Homo sapiens: one gene and its partners. The protein of the gene in region 3 purifies or fractionates together with the protein of the main gene of each other region. This does not show direct contact. Each region holds a gene or a part of one and is shown on either strand. Other genes may lie near its edges.

Region 1 (3,745 bases), on a different chromosome or scaffold from region 3:
ATGTTTTTCACGTTTTTGTACTTTTTGTTGATGTTGCTGTTTAAAATGGTCCCCAAGCGTTGTGCTGTATAGTGCTCCTAAGCACAAGAAGGCTGTCATGAGCCTTGCAGAGAAAATAGCAGTGTTAGATAAGCTTTGTTGAGGTATGAATTATAGTGCTGTTGACTGAGTTCAATGTTAATGAATCAACAATATATATTAAATAAGATGTCTTTAAGCGGAAACACACATACAACAAAACTATGTATTGATTAAGTTGATGAAAATGCGACCAGAGGCTTACAGGATCCTAATCCTGTATTTCCCTTAGGAGTAATGATTCAGTATTTACTAATTCAGTGTTTCCAGCAACTTTACAGAACCTAACTACTGCAAATAACAAGAATCAATTACATACTGAGGGAAAGGTTTTTTTCAAATACACTTTACTTCCTTTTATGCACCAGGGATAAGAAAAGCCTTCCCAAGAAATTACCACTGTTTCAAAGAGCCTATAAAAGCAGTGCTCCTGCCTTCTAGTATCCTTTTCCCCTCTACTCTCCACACTTTATTCTTTCTCGGTTTCTCTCTTCCTGTTTCTTGCAGGGTCTCCACTTAAATAATGTCTTTCAACAATCTACAGTCCTATAATACATTTAATAAAGGTGGACACACAAGACATACAAGTACTTTTTTTTTTTTTTTTTTTTTTTTTGAGACGGAGTCTCGCTCTGTCGCCCAGGCTGGAGTGCAGTGGCTCGATCTCTGCTCACTGCAAGCTCTGCCTCCCAGGTTCACGCCATTCTCCTGCCTCAGGCTCCCGAGTAGCTGGGACCACAGGCGCCCGCCACCACGCCCGGCTAATTCTTTGTATGTTTAGTAGAGACGGGGTTTCACCGTGTTAGCCAGGATGGTCTCGATCTCCTGACCTCGTGATCCGCCCGCCTTGGCCTCCCAGAGTGCTGGGATTACAGGCGTGAGCCACCGCGCCCGGCCCATACACGTACATTTTAAAGTGAGAGCTATGGCTGTGCTTCCGCAACATTAATTGCAAAATTCTGTGGTACCTCAGTTCCATGGGCACCCAGAGGATGCGTTGTTCAGCCTCAGCTGGGAATCTGCACTTTGGGCAATTAAAAATTTTCACTGCTCTGTTTATTTCTGCCGGGCGCGGTAGCTCACTCCTGTAATCCCAGCACTTTGGGAGGCCGAGGCGGGCGAATCACTTGAGGTCAGGAGTTCGAAACCAGCCTGGCCAACATGGTGCAACCCTGTCTCTACTAAAAATTCAAAAATTAGCCGGGTGTGGTGGCTCATGCCTGTAATCCCAGCTACTTGGCAGGCTGAGGCAGGAGAATCGCTTGAACCCGGGAGGTGGAGGTTGCAGTGAGCCGAGATCGTGCCATTGCACTACAGCCTGGGCGACAAGAGCGAAACTCCATCTCAAAAAAAAAAAAAGAAAGAAAGAAAGAAAAAGAAAAAAAAGAAAGTTTATTTCTGTTTCTTTAAGACGAAGTTCGGGTGTTTTGCCCTCTTCAGAAATGGTTGCACGCGCGTCCCACGCTCTGCGCATGCTCCTTGAGCAGAATTCCGGGTTAAGGCATTCAGGGACTCTGACTGCGCAAGATGGAGTGTAGGCCGGCCGGCGAGACTGCACCTCCCAGCATGCCTTGCAGCCAGGACTGGAGTCGGTACTTAAGAGTGATGGGGTTCCCTAGATACTTTAGGCCGTCGCATCGATTATAGAGATTGAGGTGGAACCCGGGGCCTGGGAACTGGACGCACGCGGAGGGCGAAGATGGAAGCCTGGCGCTGTGTGAGGAAGGGCTACGGCCACTGTGTGGTGGGAAGAGGCCGGTCAGTAGGGCTGGGTACTCGGAGGGAGGAGAGAGGGGCGGGCGGCCTGAAAGAGCGGGCGGGCGTCCGGGACTAACCCGGGGCGGGGCGGGGCGGGCTAGGGGTGGAAGGAAGAGGAAGAGGGTCTGGGCGATGGTGCATCCGGGACGAGCCTCCAGAGACCAAGCGGGATAGGTAAACCCGCCGCGCAGCTGGCGGGACGCTGGGCCAACGAGGTCTGGGGTCTTGGCGCGGAGTTCATGGGCCGCCGGCCAGGCTTGTGCCAGTGGCTTTGGATCCCTGGCCTGCTTCCCCCAACCCAGCCTCCAGACCAGCGCTGGCCTGCTCCACACACTCCGCAGCACCGTCCCGGGAACCGAGCGTCGGCGGGGAGGCCGCCTCTCCGCAGTAGGTCTCGGCGGGCCTGATCCCTTGGAGGCGCGTGTGTGGCACACGCCCAGGAGGGGCTTGATTTTTGTTGATGTGTTAGTGTCTTTCAAACTTTAGTCACTTGTATGTCATCCCTTACTGTTATGGCCAAGTTCTTGTTTCACGTGTATTATTTACTGGATATTTTTCTTTAAATTGACTCAGTTTTTTTTAAAAAGCACTTCAGTAGGTGCTGCCCACATTAGCTTCACCCTAAGCAGTGTCTGCAGAGTCTTGGATTTGATGTGCGATTATGTTTTTTCCTAATAAACTAACATAAGTATTTAGAAATTACAATCAAGTAATTTAACTGTGTACTCTGTGAAACCGACTCGTGTACCACCCACCACGCTTGGGAAACACAGCATGTATTATTACATAAGCGATGGGGATTTGGTTGTAACTCCCATAGGCCTGGGACTTGATGGTAATTCAGTTCAACAATGTTTCCTGAGTACCAGCTGTTTGCCAGGCACTGTGCTAGGCACTTGTGAAGATAACGGAATTAAAATGAATAAGACGGTTCTGTTCTGGCCCTGAAGGAGCTTAACATCTTAAGAGAAAAAAAAGTCTGAATAAATAACTGCAAATATAGATAATAGCTTTTGTAGTACAAGTATTATATTTCAATACAGTGGCTTATTAGCATAGAAAATGCATGGACCAAGTGCCCAAATTCCTATGGCTTTCAGAGTTATCACAAAGCAGTGTAGAATGCCCATGTTATGCCTTTAAAGATTTACAATTAAGTAGATTTTAGAGAACAACTAGCGAATACTTAAACTGTAAAAATTATAATAAAAATTTAAATGCTGTTAAAACGAGAATAACAGCGTATAAAGTTAAATAACAGTAAACGCAACTTAAACAAAATTCCCTTAGGGATGGGAGCGCACATTATTGATGCTGTGGTAGAAATGTAGCTGTTAAGAATTTTGGAGGAAAGGATAAAAGTCCTTCTCTGAATCTTAACATTTTGCCAAAGTAGTATAGTGAGAGGAACATGGTGCTTTATTAAGCTGAAGTGTTTCTTGAGAGCCTGAGAGCAACATACCTATTAAAAATGTTAGCGCCACTTTGGAGATGTTTTGGATGATGGGTTAAATTGAAGCTGTTGGTTTGGAGTGTTGGTGCATTCGTAGTACGTCATCCCCATCCTCTTTCATTTCCCCCAACGAGAATCATGCTTAAAAAAGAATGGAGAAATAAATTATCCACCCGTTGATTAGTAAGAGAAGTAGTTTTGTGAATTTATGAAGTTGTGGATAGGCTTTTGTTTTCCTAACTATACAAGTGTTTGGAAAAATCTGCCCTTGGTATAAAAAACTGTTCAGAAACTTGTTATTACTCCAAGTTGGAGGAGAGGTTTACTTTAATTGTAGTGTGATATGAGTTCCTTATTCGATTTCAGTATAATACTTGTTGTGTATTTTATTTTCTCATTGAGTTTTGTAGGTGCTTGAAAGCTACTCTGAATATCATTTTGATAGTTGATTCATCT
Region 2 (3,690 bases), on a different chromosome or scaffold from region 3:
GACCCAAAGGAACTAGGTGCCCTCCTGGTCTGGCCTAGGGTTTTATGACACTTGAACAGGGTTGAAGGGGGAGGGTGGAGAGTAAAGCAAGAGATGTGTGGTCTGGGGAGAGGCAGGAGAACCCCAGGCTGCAAAAGGGGGAGCCTAGCTCCTACAGCAGGCGTAGGGAGGTGGGGAGACAGGCTTGGGGTGCACCATAGTCCTCAAAGTGGCCCAGCCCTGACGCTTTCTGTGTCCCACCCCCAGATGTTTGTCCACGTGGCCGAGGTGATGGGCAAGCATTATGGGATGGTGCCAATCCAGGTGAGACACCTATCTCTGGATTCATTGGCCCCAGGCCCCGCCACCCCCATTTGCTGGTGTCAGGACCCCTTCTCTTTCAGCATCTGGACCTCTTAGTTCGTGACTCATCCCACCCCAACAAGGCAGGGCAGGGGCATGTAGGCAACATCTTCCAGGTGAGTGGTGCAAGGGGATGGGGTGGAGGGGCCATGGACAGGGCAGAGGTGGGGAAGACATGGGAGGCTGGACCTCCTAGCTCAGAGCACTCCTCTCGCTGCCTCACAGAGATTGTCTGGCAGATACCCCAAGGTGCAGGAGCTGCTGCAAGGGAAGCGAGCCCGTTGCTGCCTCTTGCCTGCCCCAGGGAGGCGGCGGATGAACCAAGGCCATGCAAGCCCTGGTGGTGAGTGTCTCTGAGAGCTGAACCTCTCTTGCGCTGCTCCCAGCTCCCCTCCGGCAACCGAGCCCCTTGAAGCACCCACCTCTCCTGGCCTCTGACACCCCTTCTCCTCCCAAAGCCCGCAGTCTCTCAGCATGCACATCTCTCCCTCAGACACAGATGATGACTTCCGCCACCTTCTGGGGGCCTACGTCTCAGATGTGCTGAGTGCGGCCCCCCAGCACGCTAAGAGCCGCTGCCAGGGGTACTGGAACGAGGGGCGCGCCGTGGCCAGGGGGGACAGACGCCTACTCACGGGGCAGCAGCTAGCTCAGGAAATCAAGGTGTGAAAACTCCCTGGAGACCCAGGCGACTCGGCTGGGCCCCTGCTCTCCCTGACCCCAGCGATGGTATCTCCGCAGAACCTCTCAGGATGGATGGGGAGGACAGGGCCCGGTTTCACCTCTCCGGATGAGGTATGAGCGCTGGGGGATCCAGCATTCTGGCAGGGAGACAGGGGAGGCAGGGAGGTGGGGGCTGTGCCGAGGCCTCCGGGGTGGGGGTCTGTGTGCCCTGGGAGTGGAGATGAGGAAACAAGCAGCGCCCCTGGCTGAGAAGGAAGGAAGGAGGCAGCCTGGGTTTTCCCGTGGACAGATGGCTGCTCAGCTGCACGACCTGAGGAAGGTGGAAGCTGCCAAGAGGGAGTTCGAGGAGTATGTGAGGCAGCAGGTGAGCCCCGGGGCTGCACGGGAGGCAGGTGTGGGCCGGGCAGGGTCCAGATCAGGGAGAGGATACCTGGGACTCCTGGTCAGGGCACCTTCTTTTCCCCTCCCTGTCACAGGACGTAGCCACCAAGCGCATATTCTCTGCGCTGCGGGTCCTGCCAGACACCATGCGGAACCTCCTCTCCACCCAGAAAGATGCCATTCTGGCCCGCCATGGTGTGGCCTTACTCTGCAAGGGGAGAGATCAGACCTTGGAGGCACTGGAAGCTGAGCTGCAGGCCACGGCCAAGGCCTTCATGGACTCCTACACGATGCGCTTCTGTGGCCACCTAGCTGCTGTGGGGGGTGCTGTGGGGGCCGGGCTCATGGGCCTGGCAGGGGGCGTGGTGGGTGCTGGCATGGCAGCAGCTGCACTGGCTGCAGAGGCTGGGATGGTGGCTGCTGGAGCTGCCGTGGGGGCCACAGGGGCCGCTGTGGTTGGGGGTGGCGTGGGTGCTGGGTTGGCTGCCACAGTGGGCTGCATGGAGAAGGAGGAGGATGAGAGGCTTCTGGAAGGGGACCGAGAGCCCCTTCTCCAGGAAGAGTAACAGCCCCAGGAGGTATTGAAGGACAGGAGAGATGTCAGGTGGGGATGAAGAAGAGGGGCAGGTCGGGGGAGGGTGATGCCAGGGATTCCAAGGCACCGCCATGTACTGCACTGCCCTGGTCGAATGCTCGGTGTCTGGGTGGCAGCTGAGCTGGGACTCAAGGTGGCTCTTGGAACCTGGGAGGCAGCATCTGGGGGCAGTGGATAGAACACCCGGCCTGTTTCTGGTTGCAGATGGTTGCCGATCTGCCCTTGTCACAGATAGGCTACATCCCAGGGTTTCTGGCTGCAAGTGAGACTCCACCCTCCCCACCTGGCTCATTTCCCCGATGACCCTGGATTGTAGGAAAGTTAAGCAGGCACCATCCTGGAAGTCTACCCCTAGGTGGTCGAGAGACCTGTTCTTTCACAGATGTGAGAAGCCCCAGGATGATTGACCATGGTGTTCAGGAGCGGGGAGCACTGATGAGGTGCTGGGGATGACAGGAAGGAAGGAACACTGGGCAGAACCAGAGAGATGGGACATGGTAGACTGTGGCCCAGACCCCAGAGCAGAGAAACTTGTTCCCATGACCCTTCCCAAATCTGCTCCAGCAGGACTAAGGTGGCTTTCCCACTCCTGGCCCACAGCCCCAGAGAGCCTGTCTGTGCATCCTGAACCACTCTTTGCTGGGCCTCCGCAAGGGCCTCTCTTGGGTCTGTGTCCTTTTTCAAGCCTGTTTAGATGGGGGAGTGCCCATGCCCTCTGTGAAGTGCCCAAATGCGAAAGAATAACACCTTTTCTTGCATTCTGAGCTAAGCCAGACAGCCTTTATACTAGATTCTATCAAAATCTTGCAAAGGAAAACAAAATGAACAACTTCTACCCTTAAACACATCCTTTCTCCCCTGGGCTTGTAAGAAGATGCAGCTTGATGCAGCTCCTCAAACACCAGGCCCCCTGGGAACTGGGGGTGCGGGAGTTCTCCCTCTGGGGGACAGAAAATCTGACTACTAGGAAGACTTCTAGGCTATGAAACTGACTTCTAGGCTATGAAACTTACAGGGTATGGGTGGGCACATTATCCTTTATTTTATGAAAAATAAAATGTGTGTATGTGAATGTCAGCTTCCCAGTATATTATTGAAACAGAATTTAACCCTCAGATGACTTCATGGTGGGAGCAGGTGAACCAATGAGATCCATTGCTGGAATGCACAGATGGGAAGAGGGAGATTGGAATTCAAGAGATCCAAGGAAGTGAACGTCAGAGGTCCCCATTCAGTGGCTGCAAGAGGCCTCAGGCCAAGGCCAAGTGGATATGGGCACCTTTGCAGGCTCTTCCACTAGGACTTGGGGTTCCGCTCCTCTTGTCTCCTCTCTGAGAAACTGCTTCCCATGATCCTGTCAACAGGCAGTCAACAAGCACCTGTCCCAGCAAGAGGACAGAATGGATACATAAGCAGAGAGAACTTGGTCAAGCCTTGAAGGAAGGAGAAGCCCAGGACCACTTCTGCAGGGCTCAGCCAGCCAGGAGTTCACCCAACTGATTCTCCTCCCAGCCCTGCTCCCCAGCTCCCCAGCTCCCCATCTCAGAACCACAGCAGTAGTCACTGCATCCAATCCTGGCATTTTATAGGTGCACACCCAGAGAGAGAAAGTCTCAGATAAGCCTGTGCAGCTGCTGATGACAGAAGCAGGGGAACCCCGAAGTCCTGGTTCCCAAGCTGGTGCACTT
Region 3 (3,745 bases):
TTAGCCAGGATGGTCTCGATCTCCTGACCTCGTGATCTGCCTGCCTCGGCCTCCCAAAGTGCTGGGATTACAGGTGTGAGCCACTGCGCCAAGCTTTTATTTATTTTATTTTTTTTTGAGACCGAGTCTGGCTCTGTTACCCAGGCTGGAGTTCAGTGGCGCTATCGGCTCACTGCAACCTTCACCTCCCGGGCTCAAGCAATCCTCTAACCTCAGCCTCCAGAGTAGCTGGGACCACAAGTACACGCCACCACGCCTGGCTAATTTTTTTTTATTTTTAAATTTTTTTGCAGAGACAGGATCTTACTCTGTTGCCCAGGCTGGTCTCAAAGTCGTGAGCTCAAGCAGTCCGCCCATCTCAGCCTCCTAAAGTGTTGGGATTACAGGTGTGAGGCACTGCGCCAGGCCACAACTATAAATCTTGACCTTCCCTGTGCTCTCTCCCTGCTTTTTCTTCCTTCTAGAGCCTGTATCATTTTTTTTTTTTTTTGAGACTCTCTCTGTCGCCCAGGCTGGAGTGCAGTGGCACAATCTCGGCTCACTGCAAGCTCCGCCTCCCGGGTTCACGCCATTCTCCTGCCTCAGCCTCCCGAGTAGCTGGGACTACAGGTGCCCGCCACCCTGCCCGGCTAATTTTTTGTATTTTTTTAGTAGAGACGGGGTTTCGCTGTGTTAGCCAGGATGGTCTCGATCTCCTGACCTCGTGATCCGCCCGCCTCTACCTCCCAAAGTGCTGGGATTACAGGCGTGAGCCACCGCGCCCGGCCGAGCCTGTATCATTTAACTAACTATGTATATTACCTATTTATTTCATCTATTATCGGTCTCCTCCTTCTAGGATACAAGGGTGGTGCCTATTCTGTTTCTTATTGTTGTTTTCCTTGCTGCTTGGAACAGTGCCTAGCATACAGTAGGCACTGGATAAATGTTGTTGAGGCCACCACTGTACTGAGCACTAAAGTTGGAATAATGAGGCTAAGCACAGTGGCTGACGCCTGTAATCCTAGCACTTTGGGAGGCCAAAGTGGGAGGATCGCTTGGGCCCAGGAGTTTGGGACCAGTCTGTGTAACACAGTGAGACCCCATCTCAACAAAAAATAAATAAAAATTGAGCTGCGTATGGTAGTGCACACCTGTAGTCCCAGCTACTCAGGAGGCTGAGGCGGGAGGATCGCTTGAGCCCAGGAGGTCGAGGCTGCAGTGAGCTGTGATTGCACCACTGCACTCCAGCCTGGGCGACCGCGAGACCCTGTCTCTTAAAAAAACAAAAAGATGGAATAATGAGCAAAACCTGAAAAAGTCCATGAAGCTTAAGTGTTGGGCAGCATTTCACTAATTTTCGTCTTGAAGCATTTCACTAATTTTCGCTCCCTACCTGGGGAGCACTAGGAAGTGAAGACTCTGGCTCCACCCCTGGAGATTCTGGGGGAGGTTGGCAGAGGTGTGCACACTGCGGAAGCGCCCCCGGCGGTTTGGATTCGGGTCACGTGCGGGTCACTCCGGTGTGCTGGGGATGGGTTGAAATTAAAACTTTCCGGGATGCCTGGTGTTCACGCTAACAGCACTGTCCACTCTCTCCTAAACAGTGCTTACGTGCCCGTCTCCCCTCTAAACCCTGAGGTGTGGCGCTGAGATGGCACCTCGCTCCTCTCTGTGCCCCCTGGGCTCAGCACCGCGTAGATGCGAGTTAATTTTTATTGAGAACGTGAATGAATGAGGGGGAATGAATGGTTAGAAGACGAATGAATGAGTAACAGGACTCTGGTTAGAAAAGGAATTTCAAGAGTCAAGATCTGGAAGGTGGGAAAGTTTCCAAAGACTTCCGCTACGCGCGCTAGGGCTCTGGAGGGGCAGGTACTTTAGAGGTCGAGACGCGATTGGCCGCCTGGGAAGGTGGCTGTGCCGCCGGCTGCTACGCGCGGGGCCAAGGAGTCGCTGGCCGCAGGGGAGGTGCTGCCAACCACCCGGCCCCCAGCGGCGCGCGACTCACGGCCTGGGTGAGCAGCCAGGCCTGGCGCCGCCGTTGCCATAGTTACAGACGCAGCCCTGCGAGGGGGCGGGCTCTGGCCGCACGTCATTCCCGGCGCGACGCTCCTCCGCGCTCCCGCCTCCTCCTGGTCGGAGACCCTCGGCCAGCCTAGCGGGCGCTCCACCTGCGCGCCGGCTCACCGCTGCCCTGCGCCGGTTCTGCGCCGGCGCGGTACGAGGGCGCGCGGTTGGGCGGGGGGGGGGGGGGAAGCTGCGAGGCGCATGCGCGTTGCAGGGCCGTCCGCTCTGCTGCCGCCGCTGTTGCAGCCACCGCCGTTGCCGCCTCCCTGCCGGCAAGTGTGTGAAGAAGAAGCTGAGCGTTGTCGCCGCCGCTATGGGGGTGAGTGAGGCAGAGAGAGGAGATGGGAGGTCCAGGGGCGCTCCTCGCTACCCTCGCCCCCTTTGTTCTTAAACCCCCCTCTCACGTGACCCCGACCCCCTCCAGCCTCACGTGACCCCTGACCCCCACATGACCCGACTCCCCCATTCTAAGGGTCCCTACGCTAGGCCTAGCCCGGGAATCCTCTGGAGAGCCCCTGGTCCGGGGCCCCACCCCCTCGGCGCCCCCAGCGTCACGCCCGCCCCTTCCTGCTTCGCGGACCCGTTACTGGCCTCCCCACCACCGTCCCCCGCGGGGACCCTGGGGTTAGCTTCCCGCTCCCCCAGGGTCACTCATCACCTGGCTGTCACCAGCTTCGTCGCTTTTCACATCCGAGGTCAACCCTGGCTTGGAGGGAATTGAGGCCCAGAGGAAAGAAGGCGCCTAGCCAAGGTCATATTGTCGGGGGCGTCAGACCCCACCTTGGGCCTCCCGAATCCCAGTCCACTGCCCTTCCCGTTACTCGAGTCTCAGCGAAGCCGGTTCCCCTACACTCTTTCGAAACCTCTCCACCAGGTTCCTGCTGCTCCTGATAAACACAGCCTTCCTTTCCCATAGACTCCTGCCTTCGACGCCTCCTGGTTGCAATGAAATGGTTCTTACGACCGCTTGGGTTGTTAGGGGTTTTGGTAGTGCAGGTGTTTTTTGCAAGGGGAGGGCTGTGCAGGTGTGCGGGGAAGATGCGGGGAGGCGGGGGCGGCGGCCCAGCCGCGGATGGATATTGACCACTTGTTCCGTGCCGGCAGCCTGGAGGTGCATTTTAGTTTACTTTCCCGGGATATAGGGTAGGGCAGAAGTTATTTGCAAGTTTCTGTGCGTTCACCTTACTAAGTCTCAATTACAGCAGTATCAGTCACCCTCCTAAAAAGATAACGCTTTTCCTAGTATTGGCTGTATTCTTTTTTTTTTTTTTTTTTTTTTTTTTTGATATGGAGTTTTGCTCTTGTCGCCGAAGCTGGAGTGCAATGGCGCGATCTCGGCTCACTGCATCCTCCTTCTTCTGGGTTCAAGCGGTTCTCCTGCCTCAGCCTCCCCAGCAGCTGGGATTACAGGCGCCCGCTACTATGCCCGGCTCATTTTTGTATTTTTAGTAGAGACAGGGTTTCACCACGTTGGCCAGGCTGGTCTCGAACTCCTGACCTCGTGATTCACCCGCCTAGGCCTCCCAAAGTGCTGGGATTACAGGCGTGAGCCACCACACAGGCCTATATTAGTATTTACATGGAATTTCCATCACCTTAAGGGAACCCTGACTTTGGAGCCCGAGGTACCTCACTTCCAGCCCCGTCTTCGCTGCTGGTGGTATAATAGTGTGCCAGTGAGTTGGCCTTTATGTGT

What was found.
Region 1: the proteins of NAA40 (region 3) and ANGEL2 purify together in Homo sapiens (affinity purification with mass spectrometry; 2 studies listed by BioGRID and IntAct, with this or other methods). This does not show direct contact.
Region 2: the proteins of NAA40 (region 3) and RNF112 purify together in Homo sapiens (affinity purification with mass spectrometry; 2 studies listed by BioGRID, with this or other methods). This does not show direct contact.

Annotation. Positions count from the first base shown.
Region 1 is NC_000001.11:213,013,704-213,017,448, reverse strand, and holds the start of ANGEL2 (protein angel homolog 2), read left to right. Parts: upstream 1-1,581; 5' UTR 1,582-1,777; coding exon 1,778-1,836; exon of another isoform or gene 1,837-1,840; intron 1,841-1,941; exon of another isoform or gene 1,942-2,075; coding exon of another isoform or gene 2,076-2,223; exon of another isoform or gene 2,224-2,300; intron 2,301-3,745.
Region 2 is NC_000017.11:19,414,203-19,417,892, forward strand, and holds the end of RNF112 (RING finger protein 112), read left to right. Parts: intron 1-246; coding exon 247-303; intron 304-383; coding exon 384-458; intron 459-543; coding exon of another isoform or gene 544-567; coding exon 568-685; intron 686-835; coding exon 836-1,005; intron 1,006-1,083; coding exon 1,084-1,137; intron 1,138-1,315; coding exon 1,316-1,390; intron 1,391-1,502; coding exon 1,503-1,973; 3' UTR 1,974-3,074; downstream 3,075-3,690. UniProt on the Homo sapiens protein: E3 ubiquitin-protein ligase that plays an important role in neuronal differentiation, including neurogenesis and gliogenesis, during brain development.
Region 3 is NC_000011.10:63,936,735-63,940,479, forward strand, and holds the start of NAA40 (N-alpha-acetyltransferase 40), read left to right. Parts: upstream 1-2,267; 5' UTR 2,268-2,362; coding exon 2,363-2,368; intron 2,369-2,596; exon of another isoform or gene 2,597-2,800; intron 2,801-3,745. UniProt on the Homo sapiens protein: N-alpha-acetyltransferase that specifically mediates the acetylation of the N-terminal residues of histones H4 and H2A.